Linked DNA regions of Homo sapiens. The protein of the gene in region 1 purifies or fractionates together with the protein of each later gene. This does not show direct contact. Each region holds a gene or a part of one and is shown on either strand. Other genes may lie near its edges.

Region 1 (6,618 bases):
AACTCAGCAAAGGTCAGACTAGCAGAACTTTGACTAGAATCTTGGTCTTACTACATAGTGGTCCAGCAGTTTTCTGCTATAGCACATTACCACTCCATCGGGAATTAATTATACACATATTTAACTCTCAGTGATGAGTACCTATCCTATGCCAGGCCCTATGCTGGATGCTTTCATACACTTATTTAACTGAGGATTGACATAAGAATATCTTTTAAATTAAAATAGGTTATCAATTCAAGGCAAAAACTACAAACTCATTATAATCAATTTTGGGAGGACTTTGTCCTAAAAGGAATTTCAGGTAAGAACACTTTGAATCAGTGGGACCACTCAACTTAAAGACTGTCTACTCTTTTCCCAACATGCCTTCCTCCCCAGAACTCAATTTGGATTTGCTAGAGTATCTAACAATACTTCAACACTTGTTAAGCTGCTGGTTTTCCTCTGTTTTCTCTCCTTCTAAAAGACATTTCTCTGAGTTCTGCAGCAGGAACAGAATCTCAGCTAATTTACTGTCTTCACTGAACGTTACCACCACCCACCCCTTCCCTTCCAGGTGCGGCAAAGAGGAAACAGACACAAGGTGGTCTAGAGGTCCATTTCATTTCAATGAGTGTGACAGCCGCTCTTCTTGGGGCCTATGGGGGAAAGGCATTGGTCCGTGGTGGGAGTGAAGCTGCTCCCACAAGATGCATTCCCAACTGGATCAGGAAGACCTTCAGATTTAGGGGAGGTCTTTGTGGAAGTCTTTAGTGGAGTCTTCCCCTGCCCGCTAGATGTCCGGTCGGTTTTAGCCCGCGTTGGCTACTGGATGGTCCGCTGTGCGGGCTTCTTGGGCTCCTGCTTCTCTTCCCTGGGCTTGGAGCTTCGCCTCTTGTCCTTCCCTGACCTCGGCGTGGTGTCTTCCTTCACGGCCTGTCCTCGCCCCTCGTCTGCCGCTGTCGCTCCCGCTTCCTCCTTGGCTCTGGCACACGGCGGCTCCTTGGCTCTCGGCCTTGCCCTCCTGGTCCTCCTCGCCCTGGCATTGGCCTTGGCTTTCGCCCTCGCGTTCCGTCTCCACACTTCTCTGGCCTTCCTGGCCGCCTTGCGAAGGGGCTGGCGGCGCCTCCGGGAGCTCCGGGGCGCGGCTGGGGTCCTCCAGGGAGCGCGCGTGCCCTCCTCTTGCCTCGCGCGTCCCGGCTTTCTCCTGGGCTTGGGAACCTTCCAGACCCTGAAGTAGCCGGCGGCGTCGCTGCCGCTGACCCGGAGGAGCGTGGCCTTGGCCTGCCCCCTGGGCGCTTCGTGGCGGCCGCTCTTCCTGCGCACTTCGTAGCCGGCGTTTCGGAGCTCCTTCTTGAGAGCTGCCAGAGTCAGCCCTTTGTGAGTGGAGATGGCCTGGAGCACCAACTGGGACACTCTGAGCACGGAGCTTGAGCAGCCCCTCGATGGTCCCCCGACAGTTTTTTCCGCTGGCAGCTGAGTGGCTGAGTGTCCTCGGGATTCGCCACTGGGCCCAGGCGCCTCAGCCATGGCCCCACTCCCGCCTCTGCGGGGCCACCGGCTTTGGGCCTCACCAGTCAAGGCCTGTTCCATAGCTGAGGTAGACTGGGCCACGTCACAAAGGCAGGCCTGGCAGAGATTTTCAGGTCCTAATTATGGGGCTGGCATATCTCACCCGGGGAGGGGCCCTTTTCACTTATAATAACCAATCAAATGCCACTTCCTTCTAGGTCTAAACCAATCCAAGTCTTCAGCGCCTGTCCACCCCCAACAGTCACCTACCTATAGAGTCTCCAGGGTTTTGTTCCCAAATCAAACTTACTGATCTCGATCTCCACCGCTTTCTTTAGTCGGCTATTTTGTGTGTGTATGTGGTCCTGCAAACCATCTACCCACAGTTCCTTAAGGTGAGCGAAGCTGCTCCCAACTATCCAAAACAAGCAACACACTGCCTGTAGAAAGTACACGGGGTAGTCCATGAAACACAACCCAGATTAGAAACTCCCACCTTTAATTCCACCAGTCAGGTATCTGAAGTCATGTCTCCCTAATTCTACACAGTGGATTCTGTGCAAGAGCATGAAGTAAAAAAGGAACCAATTGTGTGATCCCTCTACCCTAAACACTGATTCCCACACCTGGGAAATTTAGATGACGCATTCAACTGTACTGAAACAATCTAGATTTCACATCGCCTGAGGATACTGGTCTAATCATTATTCTTTGAACATACTGTGTTTTTTTCCATCTCATCCCCTCTCTTGGATTTCTCATCCTCTTTGTCTGCCCAGATAAGTCCTGCTCATCTTTCAAGGTACTGCTACATTATCCTTCTTCACTGAAGACTCCCCAAACTCTTTCAAATGATTTCTTGCCTCTTAACTACCACAACCACCAAAATTACTTCTGCAATCTTATATGGCTTTTTCTTTATTTTAAATGAATTTGGCATTAGAGGGTATAATGTGACACAATATTTTTTAAAAAGAAAAAAACTCGTACTTGGAGCTGGAAGATATGGATGCATATCCTAGCTCTTTAGGAGCCATATGACATTAACAAATCCCTTAATATCAGTGGTGTGGCTGTCAGATGGATGTGCCGGCCATCTGACTTCTTATCTAACATCACATTCCCTTCCTACCAACATCACAGAATTATTGCAAAATTTCAGAAGAGGTAGATGAACAAGGGCTACCTAAATATAAGGAATAAATTTACTTTACTTTGAATGTTTCTGTCTTGTATTTCCAACTAAATAAAGATATCCTCAAGAGCTATAGTCTTTGAACTTCTATGTCCCATGCTGCACCTAACAATATGCTTCATTATACACAGCGGGCATTTAATTGAGCCTGCTTACATCATTCCTCTCTGGTGAGGAGAGTTTCTCTAGATTCAGAAAGAAACTTCCAGAAGATCAGGAGAAAGGAGCAGAGTGAATTTCAAAGGGTTGGAAATGAAGGGGGCCAAGTAAGGATTAGCTTATCAAGGACCTATTTTGGACACAGTTTAGTTGGGAATAATTTAAAGTATTATTCTAAGAATACTTCAAATTGCCAAGCATATCATACTTTTCCAGAGGGCAATCACATACATTCATCAGTCACAGGCTAGACAGTGACAGTTTCTTTTAAAAATCAAAGCTCCAGGAAGTAGCTTAGACCAGTGCTTTTTTTTTTTTTTTTTGAGACAGAGTCTTGCTCAGCCCAGGCTATGTAATGGCACAATCTTGGCTCACTGTAACCTCCACCTCCTGGGTTCAAGCAATTCCTGTGTCTCACCCTCCCAAGAAGCTGGGATTACAAGCATGTGCCACCACATCCAGCTAATTTTTTTTTTTTTTTTTTGAGACAAAGTCTCACTCTGTTGCCCAGGCTGGAGTGCAGTGGTGCAATCTCGGCTCACTGCAACCTCCGCCTCCTGGGTTCAAGTGATTCTCGTGCCTCAGCCTCCCAAGTAGCTAGGATTACAGGTTCCTGCTACCATGCCCAGCTAATCTTAGTATTTTTAGTGGAGATGGGGTTTCACCAGGCTGGTTGGCCAAGCTGGTCTCAGACTCCTGACCTCAGGTGATCCACCCACCTTGGCCTCCCAAAGTGCTGGGATTACAGGCGTGAGCCACTGCGCCTGGCCCTTATTTATTTATATATTGGTAGAGACGAGGTTTTGCCATGTTGGCCAGGCTGGTCTCGAACTCCTGGCCTCAAGCAATCCACCCACCTCAGCCTCACAAACTGCTGGGATTATAGGCATGAGCCACTGCGCCCAGCCAGACCAGTGCTTCTTAAACTTCAATGTGCATATTTAATACCCTGGGATACTCATAAAGTGCAATTCATAGGTCTGAAGATAGGGCTAGAGGTTTTACCTTCTAAGAAGCTTCCAGGTAGTTCTATCTGGTTAAAACACAGGTGTGTGTTGAGGGGCAGGGAGAGGGTAGACAATGAGAAGGGGAGTAGCAGGAGATACGACTGAAAAGGTAGTTAAGGGACATTGGGAAGGACAACTAGTGATAATGACAGAGCTGTAAGTGGTGACACGGTAGCAAGTGGTAGAGTTTGGAACCAAACCTAAGTCTACTTAATCCTAAGGCCTAAGTTCTTAAGTACTGTGTTAGGTTTCCTTTTCTCTAAGGTTGACCCTTTCCCTATTATATATCTCCACCATAAAGCAGGGGCTAGTTTATCTCCATAATCACAGTTCAGAGCTGCTCAGATTCAAGAGTATCTAAAGGCACTCACTGTACCTTTTCCCATCTTTAAAATCAGGGCACAGTAATGTGACCCTGAGGATTTACATGGGCAGGGGACTACTGCATCAGCACAGGGACAGTGCACCCAGGAAGGACTGCCAGATGGAAAGGCAGGACCACATTAAGCAGGATTTCTCCCATTTGTATAGTCTCTTGGTCTAGCTACCCTTCCTGGTTGCAGAGACCAGTGGCCACAGGATGGGGCAAACACCAGATAAAAAAGAGGCATAACTGCTTGCTTTGAGAATAAGGAAGAAAATGAGTGAAGTCAGACCCTTGAAGTCAGCTGATCCAGAGAAAAATAGACTGACTGTACATAATGGTGTAATCATGAAAGACAAGAACAAAATCAACCAACCATGTTTACTGATGCCCCTGTGATCAGAAGGGAGGCCAAGTTGAAACCTTTGGGAGAGGCGAAATCAAAGGAAAACGAATAAATGAAAAAAAATCGAGGAACAGCTCCAGTCTAAGCTCCCAGCGTGAGCGACGCAGAAGATGGGTGATTTCTGCATTTCCACCTGAGGTACCGGGTTCATCTCACTAGGGAGTGCCAGACAGTGGGCACAGGTCAGTGGGTGCAGCGCACCGTGGGCAAGCCGAAGCAGGGCGAGGCATTGCCTCACTCCGGAAGCGCAAGGGGTCAGGGAGTTCCCTTTCCTAGTCAAAGAAAGGGGAGACAGACGGCACCTAGAAAATCAGGTCACTCCCACCCGAATACTGTGCTTTTCTGACAGGGTTAAAAACCGGCACACCAGGAGATTATATCCTACACCTGGCTCAGAGGGTCCTACGTCCACGGAGTCTCGCCGATTGCTAGCACAGCAGTCTGAGATCAAACTGCAAGGCGGCAGCAAGGCTGGGGGAGGGGCACCCCCCATTGCCCAGGCTTGCATAGGTAAACAATGCAGCCGGGAAGCTCGAACTGGGTGGAGCCCACCACAGCTCAAGGAGGCCTGCCTGTCTGCCTCTGTAGGCTCCACCTCTGGGGGCAGGGCACAGACAAACAAAAAGACAGCAGTAACCTCTGCAGACTTAAATGTCCCTGTCTGACAGCTTTGAAGAGAGCAGTGGTTCTCCCAGCACGCAGCTGGAGATCTGAGAACGGGCAGACAGCCTCCTCAAGTGCTTCCCTGACCCCTGACCCCTGAGCAGCCTAACTGGGAGGCACCCCCAAGTAGGGGCAAACTGACACCTCACACGGCCGGGTACTCCTCTGAGACAAAACTTCCAGAGGAACAATCAGACAGCAGCATTCACCGTTCACGAAAAACCACTGTTCTGCAGACGCCGCTGCTGATACCCAGGCAAACAGGGTCTGGAGTGGACCTTTAGCAAACTCCAACAGACCTGCAGCTGAGGGTCCTGTCCGTTAGAAGGAAAACTAACAAACAGAAAGGATATCCACACCAAAAACGCATCTGTACATCACCATCATCAAAGACCAAAAGTAGATAAAACCACAAAGATGGGGAAAAAACAGAGCAGAAAAACTGGAAACTCTAAAAAGCAGAGAACCTCTCCTCCTCCAAAGGAACGCAGTTCCTCACCAGCAATGGAACAAAGCTGGACGGAGAATGACTTTGACGAGTTGAGAGAAGGCTGCAGACGATCGAACTATGAGCTACAGGAGGAAATTCAAACCAAAGGCAAAGAAGTTAAAAGCTTTGAAAAAAATTTAGATGAATGTATAACTAGAATACCCAATAGAGAGAAGTGCCTAAAGGAGCTGATGGAGCTGAGGGCCAAGGCTGGAGAACTACGGGAAGAATGCAGAAGACTCAGGAGCCGATGCGATCAATTGGAAGAAAGGGTATCAGCGATGGAAGATGAAATGAATGAAATGAAGCGAGAAGGGAAGTTTAGAGAAAAAAGAATAAAAAGAAACGAACAAAGCCTCCAAGAAATATGGGACTATGTGAAAAGACCAAATCTACTTCTGATTGGTGTACCTGAAAGTGATGGGGGAATGGAACCAAGTTGGAAAACACTCTGCAGGATATTATCCAGGAGAACTTCCCCAATCTAGCAAGGCAGGCCAACATTCAGATTCAGGAAATACAGAGAACGCCATAAAGATACTCCTCGAGAAGAGCAACTCCAAGACACATAATTGTCAGATTCACCAAAGTTGAAATGAAGGAAAAAATGTTAAGGGCAGCCAGAGAGAAAGGTCGGGTTACCCACAAAGGGAAGCCCATCAGACTAACATCTGATCTCTCAGCAGAAACTCTACAAGCCAGAAGAGAGTGGGGGCCAATATTCAACATTCTTAAAGAAAAAAATTTTCAACCTAGAATTTCATATCCAGCCAAACTAAGCTTCATAAGTGAAGGAGAAATAAAATACTTTACAGACAAGCAAATGTTGAGAGATTTTGT
Region 2 (5,503 bases), on another chromosome or scaffold:
ATTGGCTCACTCCCCTAAAATTACTCCATCAAAAGTAAGACGGGCAGGTTCTTTTTGGTCCAACACCTTAAAATGTAACTGAGACTTCCTTTTGAATGGTAGTTGTTAACCTGTGCCGGGTTATACGTGCTTTGTTAAAGAATTTGTAATACAGAAACATATTCACCTTTTCTCATCTAGCAGTGGGTAAGTCCATGGGCTTTCAAGTCCAACTGCCTGGATGCAAATCCTGATTTTACCTTAGCCAAATTACTTAATTTATTGCTGCTTCACTGTGTCCCCTTTAAATTGGGAGGATAACAGTACCTCCATTACAGTATGTATTAATTAAATAATTCATATAAAGTGGTTGTGCCTGGCACATAGTAGGTGCTTATGTCATATTTAATGCAGTTATTAAATAAACATGTTTACATCATAATTCACACAGTTGTATTAGCACATTTGACAACCAGTTTTACTTGTTTACAGATCTATCTATACTTCCTTCCCATCCTACAATAGACTCTTTGATGGGGCACGGAAGTGTTGGGGGCAACTTGTATGATTTCTGTTTTCCCAGGACCTAGCACTGTGCCTGGTATATAGCAGTACTGAATATATGTTTGCTGAATGAATGGGAAAGTTGGTCTGAAATTCATTCCTTGATTGGCTATGGCAAGAGATGAAAAAATACCACCATGAAAATGCTCAAATGCAGTGGCTCAGTATCTTAATTTCTAGAGAGCATATTTTACAAGCAATAGTCATCCCAGCACCCCAATCTAAGTGCCAGTACAGAGATGAATGGAAGCCAACAGGACAGATATGGGAAAACAGTGTGGAGAGTCTACAAACAGAATCACTGGCAGGGAAGAGGGATTTCTAACGAGCAGACAGGCATTATGTATTCTGGTGTCATTGTGGGGCCAAGAGGCTATATGGGACACAGAAAAAGATAGCAGTTTATAAATATTTCAGGGCAAACTTTACCCTACTAAGCTGCAAATATGAATTTAGATGGATGACAAGTTAGATAAAAAAAGCCACTGAAATGAAAAGTGAAGGTAGAGCTTGTTCACAAGGGACAAGAATAGTGACCTGCAAACTTGAGAAAATCTGCATGGAGAGGCATTTTTGGAATGTGTAACTGCAATTCTATACACAGGGTCTGTTTTTTATCATTAAATGCAACACTAAATAGTCAACCAAGTAAGTGATTTTATTATTATCAACTATAACATTCAAATCAGATTACATAAAAATGGTTCTATAAAATTATATTTTAATTACAATTTCCTATTGAAGGACTATACCTTCCTGACCTTTCCCCACAGTGATTCGGCACATAAAACAGGTGCTGAACTGTAGCAGTTGTTTTACTCCATCCTGTAGGTTAGAGAAACTCATCAGAAGAAAGTTTCAATCACTTCACTGTTATTTTCTGCAATTCTTATTCTCTTATAGCCGATAATCTTCAGGTCTGAAAGAAAAAATCAACATATTTCTTCATGAATCATTATTTTGTTTTCTCCTGACTGATGAGGATTATTTTTCCAATTTAAAATAAAAATAACTGTTCACCAAGAAATAGCTACAAACACTATATCTAAATTTTTGGTGAAAAAAAAACATTAACATCAAATCTTTATAAAGTAGAACAGTTAAGTGACAACTCCAAAGTCTTTTTGAAAGTATAAATATAAGCCACCTTGTGCCTATATAAGAATGTATTTAGTAACTTAATAATTTGAATTCAATTTCTCTGTTCCATTTTTAAACTTTTATAAAGTCCTTATTGAAAAGATTACTATAATCTTTAAGAGTTTAAAAATCATACGAAGACATGGATTTATAGTACAAATGCAAATTTTGAGTAAGTGATTTTTCCTATTTATATTATCATATGCTAAATTTAATTTTCATTATGATCCATATACAAAATAAGTGTATAAACATCAGTCCTTTAATATTTATTTACAAACATAACTGGTTTTCCTTATTTATGCAATTATAAGATTAACCACACCTGAGAGCTGCTTTCATTAGTCAATTAAAAAAATTTTTCAGAAGTATTAAATTATAACAATAGACAAAATTAAACATAGGAAATTATAAAATGCAAACAATTTGTCCTGTTATCTTTTCAAAAGTGTATTTGTAGGTGTTGGGTTTCCATATGGAATTTTCTGAAGGAAGTTGGTAACAAACTAAACAGATATTTTGGCAAAGATGACTGATTAGAAGCAGCTGTGGTCTGCAGTTCTCCCAGAGGAATGAAAATGGCAAGTGAATTCAGCACCTTCAACTGAAATATCCAGGTTTTCACATTGGGACTGACTAGGCGGACAACTCGACCCATGGAGAAAGAACTAAGGAAATCAGGATGGAGTGACTGCCCACCTGGGAGTGGCATGGAGCCAAAGAAACCCCCACTCCCAGCCACGGGAAGCAGTGAGTGATTGTGTGACCCCCACCTGGGAAACCACGTTTCTCTCACGGATCTTTGCAGCCTGTGGATCAGGAGATACCCTCGTGAGCCCACACCACCAGGGCCTTGGGTCCAATACACAGAGCTGTGCAGAGTCTTGGCAGAGCAGTTGCTCAGGCTCACACAGAGACCCAGGAGTTTAATAGACTCTAGCCCCAGGAATCCCGGTAAGGCAGGAGATCCATCCATAAATTCTCCAAGGAAGGGAGCTGAATCCAGGGAGCCAAGCGGTGTTGTTCTGCGGGCCCCACTTCCATGGCATCTCACAAGTTAAGCCTCACTGGATTGGAAATCCAGCCAACCAGTGCAACAGGCTGGAGACTGCCTGAGATGGACAAGTTCCTGGGGGGAGGGGCAGCTGCCATTTCTGTGGTTAGGTCGACTCAGCCATTCTAGTCTGCCAGCTCCAAGGAGTCCACTGGACAAGGAGGAGTCGCCCACAATGCAACACAGCTGCTGTGCCAGATCACAGCCACACTGCTTCTTTAAGTGGGACCCTAATCCATCCCTCCTCACTGGGTGGTGCCTCCCTGCAGGAATTTCAACAACTCTAGCCAGGGTTATATGAACAGGACTCTGATCTCTCCCTGGGATAGAGCCCTGGGGAGAGACGGCCCCTGTTTCTGCAGTTCATTTGACACAGCCATTCCAGCCTGCCAGCTCCAGGGAGTCCAGGCAGTCTAGACAAGGAGGAGTCTACCATAATGCAGCATAGCTGCTGTGCCAGATTGTGGCCAGACTTTTTCTTTAAGTGGGACCCCGATCCATCCCTCCTCACCAGTTGGTGCCAGTGAGCACCAGCAACTCCAGGAATTTCAGGAACTCCAGCCAGGGTTATACAGACAGATCTCTGATCCCTCCCAGGGATGGAGCCCCTGGCGGGAGGGGTGGCCAACATCTAAGCAGTTCAGTCGACACAGCCTTTCCAGACTGTTGGCTCTGGACAGTTGAAGCAGTCCGGATGGGGATGGGATCCCCACAGTGCAGCACACCTACTCTACCAAAAAGCAGCCAGACTGCTTTAAGCAGGTCCCTGATCCTGTCTCTCCTGACTGGGTGAGACCTCCCAACAGGGGTCTCTAGACAACTCCTACAGGAGTGTCTGGGCTGGCAACAGGTCAGTACCCCTCTAGGACAGAGCTCCCAAAGGAAGGAACAGGCTACCATCATTGCTGTTTTGCAGCCTTAACTGGTGATACCTCCAGGTAAGGTAAAAACTGAAACAACTAGGGTCTGGAGCAATCCCCCAGCAAACTGCAACAGTCCTACGGAAAAGTGGTCTGACTGTTAAAAGAAAAACAACAAACAAACAAAGTAACAACAACAACATCAACAAAAAAGACCCCACAAAACCCCACTGAAAGGTAAGCCACCTCAAAAATCTAAGACAGATAAGCCCACAAAGATGAGAAAGAATCAATGCAAAAACCTGGAAAACTCTAAAAGCCAGAGTGCTGCTTCTCCTCCAAATGACAGCAACACCTCTCCAGCAAGGGCACAGAACTGGGCTGAAGTTGAGATGGCTGAACTGACAGAAGTAGGCTTCAGAAGGTGAGTAATAATGAACTTCACTGAGCTAAAGGAGCATGCTGTAACCCAATGCAAATAAGTTAAGAATCATGATAAAACAATACAGGAGCCAACAGCCAGAATAGCCAGTTTAGAGAGGAGCATTACTGACCTGATGGAGCTGAAAAATACAACATGAGAAATACATAATGCAATCACAAGTATTAATAGCAGAATAGACCAAGTATCTTTCTCAAATAAGACAGGCAGACAATAATACACACACACACACAAACACACACACACACACACAGAATGAAAAGGAATGAACAAAACCTCCAAGAAATATGGGACTATGTAAAAACCTATGACTAATTGGGGTACCTGAAAAAGACAAGGAAAACAGAACCAAGTTGGAAAACATACTTCAAGATTATCATCCAGGAGAACTTCCCCAACCTAGCAAGACAGGCCAAAACTCAAATTCAGGAAATCCGGAGAACCCCAGTAAGGTACTCCATGAGAAAAGCAACTTCAAGACACATAATCTTCAGATTCTCCAAGGTCAAAATAAAAGAAAAAATGTTAAGGACAGCCAGAGAGAAAGGCCAGGTCACCTACGAAGAGAAACCAGTCAGACTAACAGTGGACCTCTCAGTAGAAACCCTACCAGCCAGAAGAGATTGGGGGCCAATTTTCAACATTCTTAAAGAAAAGAAATTCCAACCCAGAATTTCATGTCTGGCCAAACCAAGCTTCATAAGTGAAGAAGAAATAAGATCTTTTTCAGACAAACAAATACTGAGGGAATTCGTCACCACCAGGCCTGCCTTGCAAGAGCTCCTGAAGAAAGCATTAAATATGGAAAGGAACAACCATTACCAGCCACTACAAAAACACACTAAAGTACACAGACCAGTGATGCTATGAAGCAACCACATAAACAAGTCTGCAAAATAACCAGCTAGCATCATGACAGGATCAAATTCATACATAACAATATTAACCTTAAATGTAAATAGGCTAAATGACCCAATTAAAAGACACAGAATGGCAAACCGGATAAAGAGTTGAGACCCATCAGTATGCTGTCTTCAAGGGACCCATCTCATGAACAAAGACACACATAGGCTCGAAATAAAGGGATGGAGGAAAATTTACCAAGCAAATGGAAAACAGAAAAAAGCAGGGGCTACAATCCTAATTTCTTACAAAACAGACTTTAAACCAACCAAAATTAAAAAAGACAGAAGGGCATTGCATAATGGTAAAGGGTTCAATTCAAGAGTTAACTATCCTAAATATATATGCACCTAATTCAGGAGTACGCAGATTCATAAAGCAAGTTCTTAGAGACCTATAAAGAGACTTAGACTCCCACATGATAATTGTGGGAGACTTTAATGCCCCACTGACAATATTTGACAGATCATTGGGACAGAAAATTAACAAAGATATTCAGGACCTGAACTCAGCTCTGGATCAAACAGAACTGATAGATATCTACAGAACTCTGCACCCCAA

What was found.
Region 2: the proteins of H1-7 (region 1) and MRPL13 purify together in Homo sapiens (co-immunoprecipitation; 2 studies listed by BioGRID and IntAct, with this or other methods). This does not show direct contact.

The regions. Positions count from the first base shown.
Region 1 is NC_000012.12:48,324,249-48,330,866, reverse strand, and holds H1-7 (testis-specific H1 histone), read right to left. Parts: upstream 1,888-6,618; 5' UTR 1,576-1,887; coding exon 808-1,575; 3' UTR 588-807; downstream 1-587. UniProt on the Homo sapiens protein: Essential for normal spermatogenesis and male fertility. Required for proper cell restructuring and DNA condensation during the elongation phase of spermiogenesis.
Region 2 is NC_000008.11:120,394,664-120,400,166, forward strand, and holds the end of MRPL13 (large ribosomal subunit protein uL13m), read right to left. Parts: intron 1,463-5,503; coding exon 1,441-1,462; 3' UTR 774-1,440; downstream 1-773.